Homo sapiens: one gene and its partners. The protein of the gene in region 2 purifies or fractionates together with the protein of the main gene of each other region. This does not show direct contact. Each region holds a gene or a part of one and is shown on either strand. Other genes may lie near its edges.

Region 1 (3,650 bases), on a different chromosome or scaffold from region 2:
CCTGACTCGCGTCAGTGGGTCTCTGGCCTCTGCGGCTTCACTCTTTGCGCCCTGAGGGTTGGGTGTCCCAGCAACCCAGAGCTTCTATCCTGGCTGGGTGGCCCGAGGGTCCCGCTTGCCGCCTCCTGCCTTTGGTCCCACGCGATGAGGGCCCATTTACCCCCTGCCCGCGCGTGCCTCCTGCCATGGGCTTGGTTTCTGGGGTCGTGGGGATTCCAGCAGCTCCTGGCGCCTCACCCGCCCCCTCGCCGTGTCCTGCAGAAGTTTGACGAGCTCCTGCACCTGGCCTCGAGGGGCCAGCACAGCAATGTGGACATGCTGGTGCGGGACGTCTACGGCGGCGCCCACCAGACTCTCGGGCTGAGCGGGAACCTCATCGCCAGCAGCTTCGGGAAGTCGGCCACCGCCGACCAAGGTGCTCACCCCGGCCTCTGCCGCCAGAGAGCAGGATGGTGGGGACACTTGGGGTCTCACGGACAGGAGCTTCCCCCACCATTGCTTTCCCACAACTGCTCCCTGGAGAGTCGGGGTCTTGGGTGTCAGCCCTGTAACCTCTTCCTGCCGAGTCGCTGCAGCTCAGGCCCACTGCTCAGAACGTCGGCAGATAAACGCCACGGTCTTGGTTTTGGAAGAAAAAATAGTTTCCTGATTGGGTTTTTTCCTCCTTCAAAACAAAGCTTAATCCGTCCAGGAATGATTCACACATCACACGCAGCCTCCCGCACTTGGGCTCCAGTTCCCCCACTCAGCTCTCTCTCCCCCTCCCCTCCCACTCAGCTCTCTCTCCCCCTCCCCTCCCACTCAGCTCTCTCTCCCCCTCCCCTCCTGCTCGCTCTCATGTCGTGCACTTGCTGTACTTGGAGATGAGTGCCTTTTCCTTCCCTTCCTCAGAGTTCTCCAAAGAAGACATGGCGAAGAGCCTGCTGCACATGATCAGCAACGACATTGGGCAGCTGGCCTGCCTCCACGCACGGCTGCACAGCCTGGACCGCGTGTACTTTGGAGGCTTCTTTATCCGGGGCCACCCCGTGACCATGCGCACCATCACCTATAGCATCAACTTCTTCTCCAAGGTAACGGATGCGCCGCCCTCCCCAGCCTCTAACGCAGACCCCCCAGGATCTTCCCAATCAGTCATGCTGGTTAGACACCGCAGCACCCCCAGGGAGGCCTGGAGGGTGGGGGCCAAGAAGCCCAGCACCCCTCCCTTCTGACTGATTCTGGGCAGCCTACATTTTGTGGCACCGTGGCCACCTGAGTTTGAGTACATCACCAGTGATGAGCATTCTAGAGAGCTCCAGGCAGGCCTGCTGATCTGCGCTGGGGTCAGGGTGCCCCTGCCCCCGCAGAGGCACGCCCACCCACATGCCTGACGCAGAGACTTGTGGGCCAGGGACTCGCTGCATGGGAGAAGCTATCTCACCCTTAGCTTTCTTCAAACAGCAGCCCGCCCTCTGGTGCCAGGCGCGATTCCACTGGCAAGTATGCCGTGGGTGCCATGGCGCCTCTTCGAGGGTTTGGGCCGCGCGGTGCGAGGCCCGCGCACGTTGAGCTGGTTTGCGGAGGCACCGGGTGTTGTGTGGGGCCAACAGCAGCACGTGTGCTTTGGCCACGGCAGGGGGAAGTGCAGGCGCTGTTTCTGAGGCACGAAGGCTACCTGGGAGCCATCGGAGCGTTCCTGAAAGGAGCTGAGCAGGACAGTGAGTCGCGGTGCTGGCGCCCCTGAGCAGCGTGGGGCCTCAGCTGTGGCCTGGGCCTGTGCTCCAGGCCAGGGCGGCCCAGGGTGGAGGTGGGGTGGGGAGCGTGAGTCCTCAGAAAGTGACAGCAGCAGGCATGTCTAACATTTTAACAATTTAGTTAATAAGCGATTTTATACCCTTTCCTCCTCCACTCTCCTGCTTTTGAATCAAGGGCAAGGTTAACACAAGTGACCTGGCTTCTTGCTTTCCAGATCCTAACCAGTACAGCTGGGGAGAGAACTATGCAGGCAGCTCCGGGCTGATGAGTGCATCACCCGAGCTCGGCCCGGCGCAGCGGGCGCGGAGTGGCACTGTGAGTAGTGGGCTCTGGCCGCCCCGGGCCCCAGGGGAGCAGCCTATGCCGCACTCACCTCGCCTGTCCCTGAGCGAAGCCTCTTGTGGCTGTCCCGGCTGAAAGGCGCCTCTGCCCATGGCGAATCCTCCCATGGACCTGGGGTATAACTAGGGGCAAGAGAAGGACACTGTGGCTTGCTTTCCCATCTCCCTCATTGGGTGCTTTCGTATTTTGGAAACATTCAGCAGGAATTACGGAGTCTGTGTGATCCGGCCTTCTTGTTTGCAGAGAGATTGCTAAAGTTCAGGGGTGACGGGGACCTCTCCCCACGCCAGAAGGCCCGTCCACTTTGGAGTTGAAACCCGAAACCGCAGGAGCCACCCAGGGCCCTGCCTAGGACTGCGCGCTCTGCCGCACACTGCCGCGCACTGTGGCTGATGGTCTGTCGGTTACAGTCTGCTCTCCTCGGGGTGTCCCGGCTCATTCCTTGGATCCCCAGTGGGTTTGCCCTGGCCTGAGCTGGGTGGCACTGGCGGGCTAGGAGACGCACCCCATGTCTGCCGAGTTGGAGCTGCTCCGGAAGGGTCCCCCGCCAGGACCTGCGTCAGCCACGGGATGCCCCCAGCACAGCCCCACATGGCAGGAACCGCCCCGTGTCACAGGCTGTCAGGGTCCTCGACCGTGCCCCCCCGCGGGGCTCATTCCTTCTGTAGCTGTGAGCAGTTAACCTGAGGTCACGCACAAAGCTAGTCGGACCCCTCAGGACAGGCCGCTGGCATTGTTGGCAGGAAGTTGCTTGTCATTTGTAGACATGGGGTTCAGTGTCAGTATTTTCAAGACCGCGACTTGTTGAGTTTTGGCTTCTCAGGAGGGCGCCTCCCTTTTGTGTGGGTCCTGCAGTTCACACCAGGCCACGGCCTCGCACAGACGCACCACACTGGCCGCAGCCCTGGTCTGCCTTTCCCACCGCCAGCACTAGGCAGGGGAGTGGGGGCGAGGCTCTGGGGGCCTGGCAGAGCCCCAGGCTCTCAGCTTTTGCCCTGCTGTTGGGCAGAGGGGCTTGGTGTCTTCCAGCCTCAGTTTCTGATTTGCCAAGTGTGCATAATTTGCCAAATGTCCTGGACTGTAACCTGGAGTGACTGCGTGGACGGCCACAGTGCTTCGGGGGCCCCGTTCAGGAGGCGCTTGTTACCTATTTGGTACCCCACCAGTGGCACAGCCCTGCCAGGCAGGAGGGGCCCCCACCTTACTGAGGATCAAACTGACATGCAGAGAGATGGAGTCATTTATTTCAGTTTATATTGTCCAAAAAAGTCAAAGCGAAGATTTGAACCCATTTGTCAGGATAGAAGGAGCCTGCGACCTGGCAAGGCAGCACCAGGCGATCCCGGCTGTGGTCCGTGGTAGTTAAGGTGGGGCTCCTGCCGCCTTCTGCACTGGCTTTGGGAAGTCACTGGCTTTTTCCACGTGGAGCTTCTGCCCGGCATGGGCTTCCCACCTGGAAGGCGTCCCCTTTGCTCTGGAGGTCCCTGCCCACCCAGAGGCTGCTTCTCCAGCCCCAGGGGTTGCCAGCAGGGGTGCCCCAGTGGAGAAGGGCAGAGGGCCAGCATGTGACC
Region 2 (3,650 bases):
CTCACACCTGTAATTCCAACACTTTGGGAGGCTGTGGCTGGAGGATCACTTGAGTCCAGGAGTGGCAAGACACCATCTCTACAAAAAATTTTTTAAAATAAGCCAGGCATAGTGGCACAGGCCTGTAGTCCCAGCTACTCAGGAGGCTGAGGCGGGAGGATCCCTTAAGCCCAGGAGTTCAAGGATGCAGTGAGCTGTGATTATGCCACTGCACTCCAGCCTGGATGAGAGATCAAGACACCCACCCAGTCTCTTAAAAAAGAAAGAAAGAGGCCAGGCACAGTGGCTCACGCCTGTAATCCCAGCACTTTGGGAGGCGGAGATGGGTGGATCACCTGAGGTCAGGAGTTCAAGATCAGCCTGGGTGACATGGTGAAACCCTGTCTCTACTAAAAATACAAAAATGAGCCAGGCATGGTGGCACACACCTGTAATCCCAGCTACTCAGGAGGCTGAGGCACAAGAATCACTTGAACCTGGGAGATGGAGTTTGCAGTGAGCCAAGATGTAGTTGCTGCACTCCAGCCTGGGCGACAGAGTGAGACTCCATCTCAAAAAACAAAAGAAAGAAATTCCACCAGATTCATTCTAGAGCTGGGTTTCTCAGCCTCGGCACTGACATTGGGCCGGACCTTCTTCACTGCAGGGGACTGTTCTGTTTATTTTAGGATGTTTGGCAGCATCCCTGGCCTCTATCCACTAGATGCTAGTTGCACCCCTAGAGTTTCAACAACTGAAAATGTCTCTAGACATTGCCAAATGTCCCTTGAGGGAGCAAAATTGCCCAAGGTTGAGAGCTGCTCTTCAGGACTTCGTTAGTTTCCAATTGCTGCTGTAACAAATTGCTGCAATTACTTAGTGGCTTTAAAACAACACATTTATTATCTTATAGTTCCTGGGGATCAGAAGTTCTAAAATCTAGGTGTCAGCATGGCTGTGTTCCTTCTGGAGGCCCCAGGAGAAAATCGGTTTCTTTGCCTTCTCCAGATTCTAGGGGCTGTCCTCATTCCTTGGGCTCCTGGCCCCTCCCTTCCATCTTTGAAGCCAGCAGTGTGGCAACTTCACACCTTTCTGTCTTTGGTCACATCTCTTCCTCTAACTCTGACCCTTCTACCTCCTTTTTATAAGGATCCTTGTGATTACACTGGGCTCACAGGATAATCCATGACTGTCTCCCATCTTAAGATCCTTAATCACATCTGCAAAGTCCCTTTTGCCATATAAGGTAACATATTCACAGGTTCCAGGGATTAGGATGTAGCCATCTTAGGGGAGCCATGTTTCTGCCTGCCGCAGACAGTCTGGCCTCAGGTTATAATGAAATTTGCTTGTGGAGGGTTTGTAGGGAGCGAAGTGATTTAGGGAGTCGGGGACTGGAGGATTATTGGGACATAACAGCAGCTAGTACTTTTGAGAGTCAAGTCTATCCCAGACACCATGTGCCTAATCTCATTGTATCCTCAGAACAACCCCTGCAGGGGTACTGTTAGCTGACCCCTGTTTACAGAGGAGGGAACTATCCAAGGAAGGCTTTCTGGAGGCCAGGTGCAGTAGCTCATGCATGTAATCAACTTTGGGAGGTCGAGGCAAGAGGATCGCTTGAGGCCAGGAGTTCAGAGGCAAGAGGATCACTTGAGCTTGGGAGACTGAGGCTGCCGTGAGCCATGATTGCACCATTGCACTCCAGCCTGGGTGACAGAGTGAGACCCTGTCTCAAAAAAAAAAGAAAAGAGACCAGCCTGGGCAATGTAGGGAGACGCCCATCTCTATAAAAATAAAATAACATAATTAGCCAGATGTGGGTGGTATGCACCTGTAGTCCCAGGTACAATGGAGGCTGAGGTGGGAGGATCACTTGAGCCCAGGAGTTGGAGGCTGCAGTGAGCTATGATTGCACCACTGCACTCCAGCCTGGCCAACAGAGCCAGACTCTCTCAGCAACAACAACAACAACAAACCCAAAAGAAACAAACAAGGAAGGCTTTCTGGAGGAGGTCAACATTTGAGCTGCGTCTTGAAGAGATTAAAGGGTTTTGCTAGTGAGTGGGAAAGGGATTCCAGGCAGAGGTGTTACTGGTGGAGGGTGTCCAGGTTCTTGGCATTTTGAGCAAAGAATTGGACAAAACACACGAACAAAACAAGGAAAGAAAGCAACGAAAGCAAATATTTACAGAAAACAAAAGTACACTCCACAGGGTGGGAGTGGGCTTGAGCAGATTGCTTACAGAATTGCCTGGGGTTTAAAAACCCTCTAGAGGTTTCCCATTGGTTACTTGATGTACACCCTATGTAAATGAAGTAATGGCCTGGGATCAGTCTGATAGGTTGTGGAATGCGACCAATCAGAGGCTGAAGTGAAGTTACAAATGAAGACTCCTATACAAACGAGGACTTGGCCAGCACCAGCCTGATTGGTTGTGGGAAGGGACCAATCAGAGGTAACTTCAGTTTTTCATCTGCCACGCAGGTAAGTTGGGGGTTGCAAAGGGAGTAGCCTCTGGTCCTTTTGTTACTTGGGCTTGGAAAGTAGGGGTTTTCCTTTTGATTTAGTTCTAGGAAGTCAGCCTGAATCAGCCTTAGGTTCCCTGCCTCCAGACCCTATTCGCCTGCCTCAGAGGCACCTGCAGATAGATACAAGGGCAAGGAGGTGAGGAGAGTTTGGTGGTGCATGGAGATTGATTCTTGGACTTGGAAACTTGGGAAGCTGAGATGGCAGGGAGGAAGGGACGGATGGGCTGGACTCTGTAAATTGGTCCTTTCATTCTGATGTACTATTTCTCTCAATAGTTTAAATAAATGTTTATGAGCACCCATTATATGCTAGGGGTGCAGACATTAAGACACTGATGTGAACTCTTAGCTTGATGCTTGACTTAATCACTCCTAATGCTGCATCCCAGTAAATAAACACTGAGCAGCCAGACACGGTGACTCACACCTATAATCCCATCTCTTTGGGAGGCTGAGGCGGGTGGATCACTTGAGGTCAGGAGTTCAAGACTAGCCTGACCAACATGGTGAAACCCCGTCTCTACTAAAAATACAAAAATTATCCAGGTGTGGTGGCGGGTGCCTGTAATCCCAGCTACTCGGGAGGCCGAGGCAGAAGAATCACTTGAATCCGGGAGGCGGAGGTTGCAGTAAGCCGAGATCACGCCACTGCACTCCAGCCTGGGTAACAGAGGGAGACTCCATCTCAAAACAAAAGAAACACTAAACATAAGGGTATTTGAGTTCATGTTGAGCACCTGTGCACTGAAGGCAATACAAGGTATGGGGGGAGGGATGGAGACAGCAGTGCAGACCTTAGGATGTCACAGCCCACCTGACAAGTCTATTGTCTAGGAGAGGGTCCCAGCTCCTAATGGTGGGGCCCAGGATTCAAACCCTGGCCATGCGGCTGTAGAGGACAAGCTGTTAGCCACTGTATTGGGCTTTGGTTTTTGTTTCTTGTTTGAAGGAAACTCGGGACTCCAGCTAGGGTTTAAAATATCTTCAGAACAAGCCAGGTGCAGCCCTCAACAGCCTAGCGCTGTGTAGTTCCGCTCCCTTAAGGTTGCCTTTTCAGAGGTAGACTGTCACTTCTGGACCTAGCAGCTCCTGTCATTGTCAGAGGAGAGTCCAGTGTAGCACCTGGTGTGCAGTCAGTC
Region 3 (3,650 bases), on a different chromosome or scaffold from region 2:
TAAAGCCAGGTGTTTTTGGTCTTCAACTGAACTATTATTTCTTGAGTCCCCTAAAAAAAGGTTCAAAGGTCCAAATTACAAAAGTGATAAGCTTATTTTTTCTTGATTCCGTTTTACTGTAATAATTTCTTTATTTCTTCAGTATTCAGTTTTACCCCTAATAGGACAGATATAATATAATCTTTAAAACGATGCATGCATCCAACATTTGGCAAAAGTAGGCTCAAAATCAATATTAACAGATTTTATTTCGGTATGCTTGCAAGTGGCCGTTATCCAATAAATATTAAAAATGAAAATGCAAAGGTTAAATATATCCTCTTCACAGAGGGTTTTCCTAATAAAGGATGTCAACAGGAGAACGCTAGATTTTGATACACCAAAAAGAGAGAAAAGTTCATGAATAAAGCTATCTATTCAACCTGTATTAATTCACATTTAATACTTATTAATTGCCAGATACTACTGTACTTTTATCAGATTTATCAGAGAGGTACCCAATGATAATACATTGTGTATATAACATCATTAAATATACGTATTTGCTCTGTACAATAAAAACACATTGAAGTAACTATACATTTAACTATATTTATTAGTTGTAATTAATAACAAATCTGATTATTTTCAGAAGCTTTTAAAGCTCGCTCTTAGAAGCACAAGGCAGTAGATACTAGTCATGTGGATCATACATGTTTTCCCTCAGTTTTTACCTTCCTTTAAACTCTCTCCAATACACTCACATAATTCTAGCTTCCTCCTCCTCAATTACCTAACAGAGGTTGAATGAACCTGTAAATTTTGGAAAATACAGTTCACTAATATGTCACAATAATGCACATTAGGAAGTCATTGAAATCAATAACCAAAGAATGGGAACAAGAACAAAAAATTCTCTGTTTTGAACCCCTTTTCAAATAAAAATAAAATTACAGACAATACTTTACCTTGTTCATTTAGTGCCTGAGTTGGATCCTTCAACAGGGCAGCATATTTATGCAAAAGGTTTACCATGACCTCCAAAAGGCCAACCTCCCTGAACACGTCTTTAAATATGTAGTCATGTCTTGTAAACTTAAGAAGTGTTTTCATTGCAATAATGCTACAGTGATAAGAAGAGCTAGATTTTAAGAGGATACTGACACTAATAAGTTCTTTACAAGGTATATAATTTAAGCTAAAAACAACAAACTCCAGCATCTCAAAGTATTTGTTTTGTACTTCTGGGAGTTTAGAAATCTTCTCTGCAAACTGTGACAATGTGTGCTGTGACTCTAGGATGAAGTAATTGGCATTGTCAGCCATGTAAATATTTGTGATAGCATCAAGGATGATTTGGGCAAGGAAGCTGGTTTTTGCTTTTAAAAATGCATTCTGAAGAACTGCAAAGGCCTGGACGTTTCTCACACTGTGACCTAGAACAGAAAAGAAAAACATAAAAGTAGGTACTATGTGATATTTTAATGATGGCAAACTAGTCTGTTTAAACACATCATGAATTATAACATTTATCAATTATTTACTAAGAACATAACCCTGTTTTCACAAAAGGTCTTATTTTTCTTCATCAGGTTCAAATCATTTAATTAAAAATAACAATGATTAAAACTTTAATGCATTATTATGAATATTTCAATTCAAAAATAGTGTATGTTGAAAAGTTAGACTGTTTTAGAGGGAATAAAAGCATATTATTATAAACATCCATGCTTCAGAGTTTAGAGTGGTAGTTTTATTATCTATGAGATTGATTTTGACTATAAGGACAGCTGTCTCTCAATTTAAAAAGACTTTGAGGCTGAAGAAGTTACAGGCCTGAGAGCAGCAATAATGAAGCAGGAAAACAGGAGGGGAAAATTTTTCTAAATTCCAGTTTTCCTTTATAATTAGAACACTGTGATTTTTATAAATTTTAAGCTGGAAGTTTGTTTTGTTTTCTAGCTAACAGTACAATTTCTTCATATAGACATTTGTTAAAGTAATTTATGGCCAGCTATTCAAACGTACCAAATGGGGAAAAAAAAACTTTATACATGGCTCTGGTGAGGCAAATTAGTGACAATAATTATAAAGAAATTAAGACAGAAAGTTCTATTTGAAGTACATGAAAATAAGCAGCTTGCCTGTAAAAGGAGTCCCCAGAACAATACCTATTAGGAGTATATGGCATTTCCAAGTATGACCAAAAAATTAACATAGTGTCTGACAGAATAAGCTGGATTTCAGAAAGAGTATAAACCAGAGAACTACCAAAATTAGTAAATGGAGCAGAAAGAACACTCAGGGCTGGGGGCAGTAGCTCACACCGGTAGTCCTAGCACTTTGGGAAGACTGCCTGAGGCCAGGAGTTCTAGACTAGCCTGGGTAACATAGCAAGACCACCTCCATTTCTACAAGAGATTTAAAAAAAAATTTAGCTGGGGATGGTGGCATGTGCCTGTAGTTCTAGCTACTCAGGAGGCTGAGGCAGGAGGCTGAGGCAGGAGGATTGCTTGAGCCCAGGAGTTTGAGGTTGCAGTGGGCTATGATCACACCACTGCACTTCAGCCTGGGCGACAGAAAGCAATCCTGTCTGTAAAATAAACAAACAAACAAACAAAAAAGAATGCTCAGAAATCTTGACTTCGACATTTCTTAAAAACACAGGAAATTTAAAAAATCTCCAGCCTATATATGATTTCAATTCTCTAATTTCTTGTTTATTACATGTATGGCAAATACCAAAAATTTATCTTTGTTTCCTGTGTCTATCAGTCTATCTAAGTTTGTTTTTTGGTTACCTACATAATATAAAAAGTAAAGATGTCTGGAAAAGAATAATCAACATCTCAGCAGCTTTTCAAAAAAATAGTTCATGTGATTATTAATTTATATGGAAAATCAAAAGACTTAGAATAGCCAATATGATTCTGAGAAGAAAGAACAAAACTGGACAACTTAAGTGACCTGATTTTAAGGCTTATTATAAAGCTACAGCAATCAAGACAGTGTGGTATTGGCTTAAGGACAGGTACATGGATCAATCAAACAAAATTCAGAAAGTGTCTCAGATATATGTAGTCATATATGATATTTTCAACAAAGGGTCTTGGCACATTCAGATACCCATATTAAAAAAGAAATCCTTACTTTCTACCCTCTATGATAATAACTTAAAATGTACCATAGACCTTAATTTAAAAGTTAAAATATGAAACACTGGATAAAGAAAAAATCAGAAGAAAACATTAGAGATCTTTGTGAATCTGAAGTAAAGATTTCTTCAATAGGAGAAAAACAATCACAAAATATTATTAAAATGAAAAACTGGACTTCATCAAAATTTAAAACTTCCATTTCTCAAAAGATGCGTTAAAAAAAAACCAGCAAGTCAAAACTAAGAGAACACACTTCCAAAATACATATTAAGGGATAAAGAACTTATACAGAATATCTAAAGAACTCTTATAACTCCAGTAAAACAACCCTATCAAACAATGGGCTCAGAGATCTGAACCAAGGTAGAGAAACAGATGGTGACAAAGCACATAAAAAATGCAAAACTTCATTAGTCAATTATAAAAATGAAAATTAAAATAACAATTAGACATTATTACATACTTAGTAGAATGTCTAAAATTAAAAGGACTAACAATACCAAGTGTTACTGA

The links.
Region 1: the proteins of EEF2K (region 2) and PANK4 fractionate together in Homo sapiens (co-fractionation; one large-scale study listed by BioGRID). This does not show direct contact.
Region 3: the proteins of EEF2K (region 2) and WDFY3 purify together in Homo sapiens (affinity purification with mass spectrometry; one large-scale study listed by BioGRID and IntAct). This does not show direct contact.

The regions. Positions count from the first base shown.
Region 1 is NC_000001.11:2,516,566-2,520,215, reverse strand, and holds part of PANK4 (4'-phosphopantetheine phosphatase), read left to right. Parts: intron 1-261; coding exon 262-415; intron 416-891; coding exon 892-1,073; intron 1,074-1,618; coding exon 1,619-1,700; intron 1,701-1,951; coding exon 1,952-2,052; intron 2,053-2,322; coding exon of another isoform or gene 2,323-2,334; exon of another isoform or gene 2,335-3,650. UniProt on the Homo sapiens protein: Phosphatase which shows a preference for 4'-phosphopantetheine and its oxidatively damaged forms (sulfonate or S-sulfonate), providing strong indirect evidence that the phosphatase activity pre-empts damage in the coenzyme A (CoA) pathway.
Region 2 is NC_000016.10:22,212,727-22,216,376, forward strand, and holds part of EEF2K (eukaryotic elongation factor 2 kinase), read left to right. Parts: intron 1-3,650. UniProt on the Homo sapiens protein: Threonine kinase that regulates protein synthesis by controlling the rate of peptide chain elongation.
Region 3 is NC_000004.12:84,820,137-84,823,786, forward strand, and holds part of WDFY3 (WD repeat and FYVE domain-containing protein 3), read right to left. Parts: intron 1,416-3,650; coding exon 948-1,415; intron 51-947; coding exon 1-50. UniProt on the Homo sapiens protein: Required for selective macroautophagy (aggrephagy). Acts as an adapter protein by linking specific proteins destined for degradation to the core autophagic machinery members, such as the ATG5-ATG12-ATG16L E3-like ligase, SQSTM1 and LC3.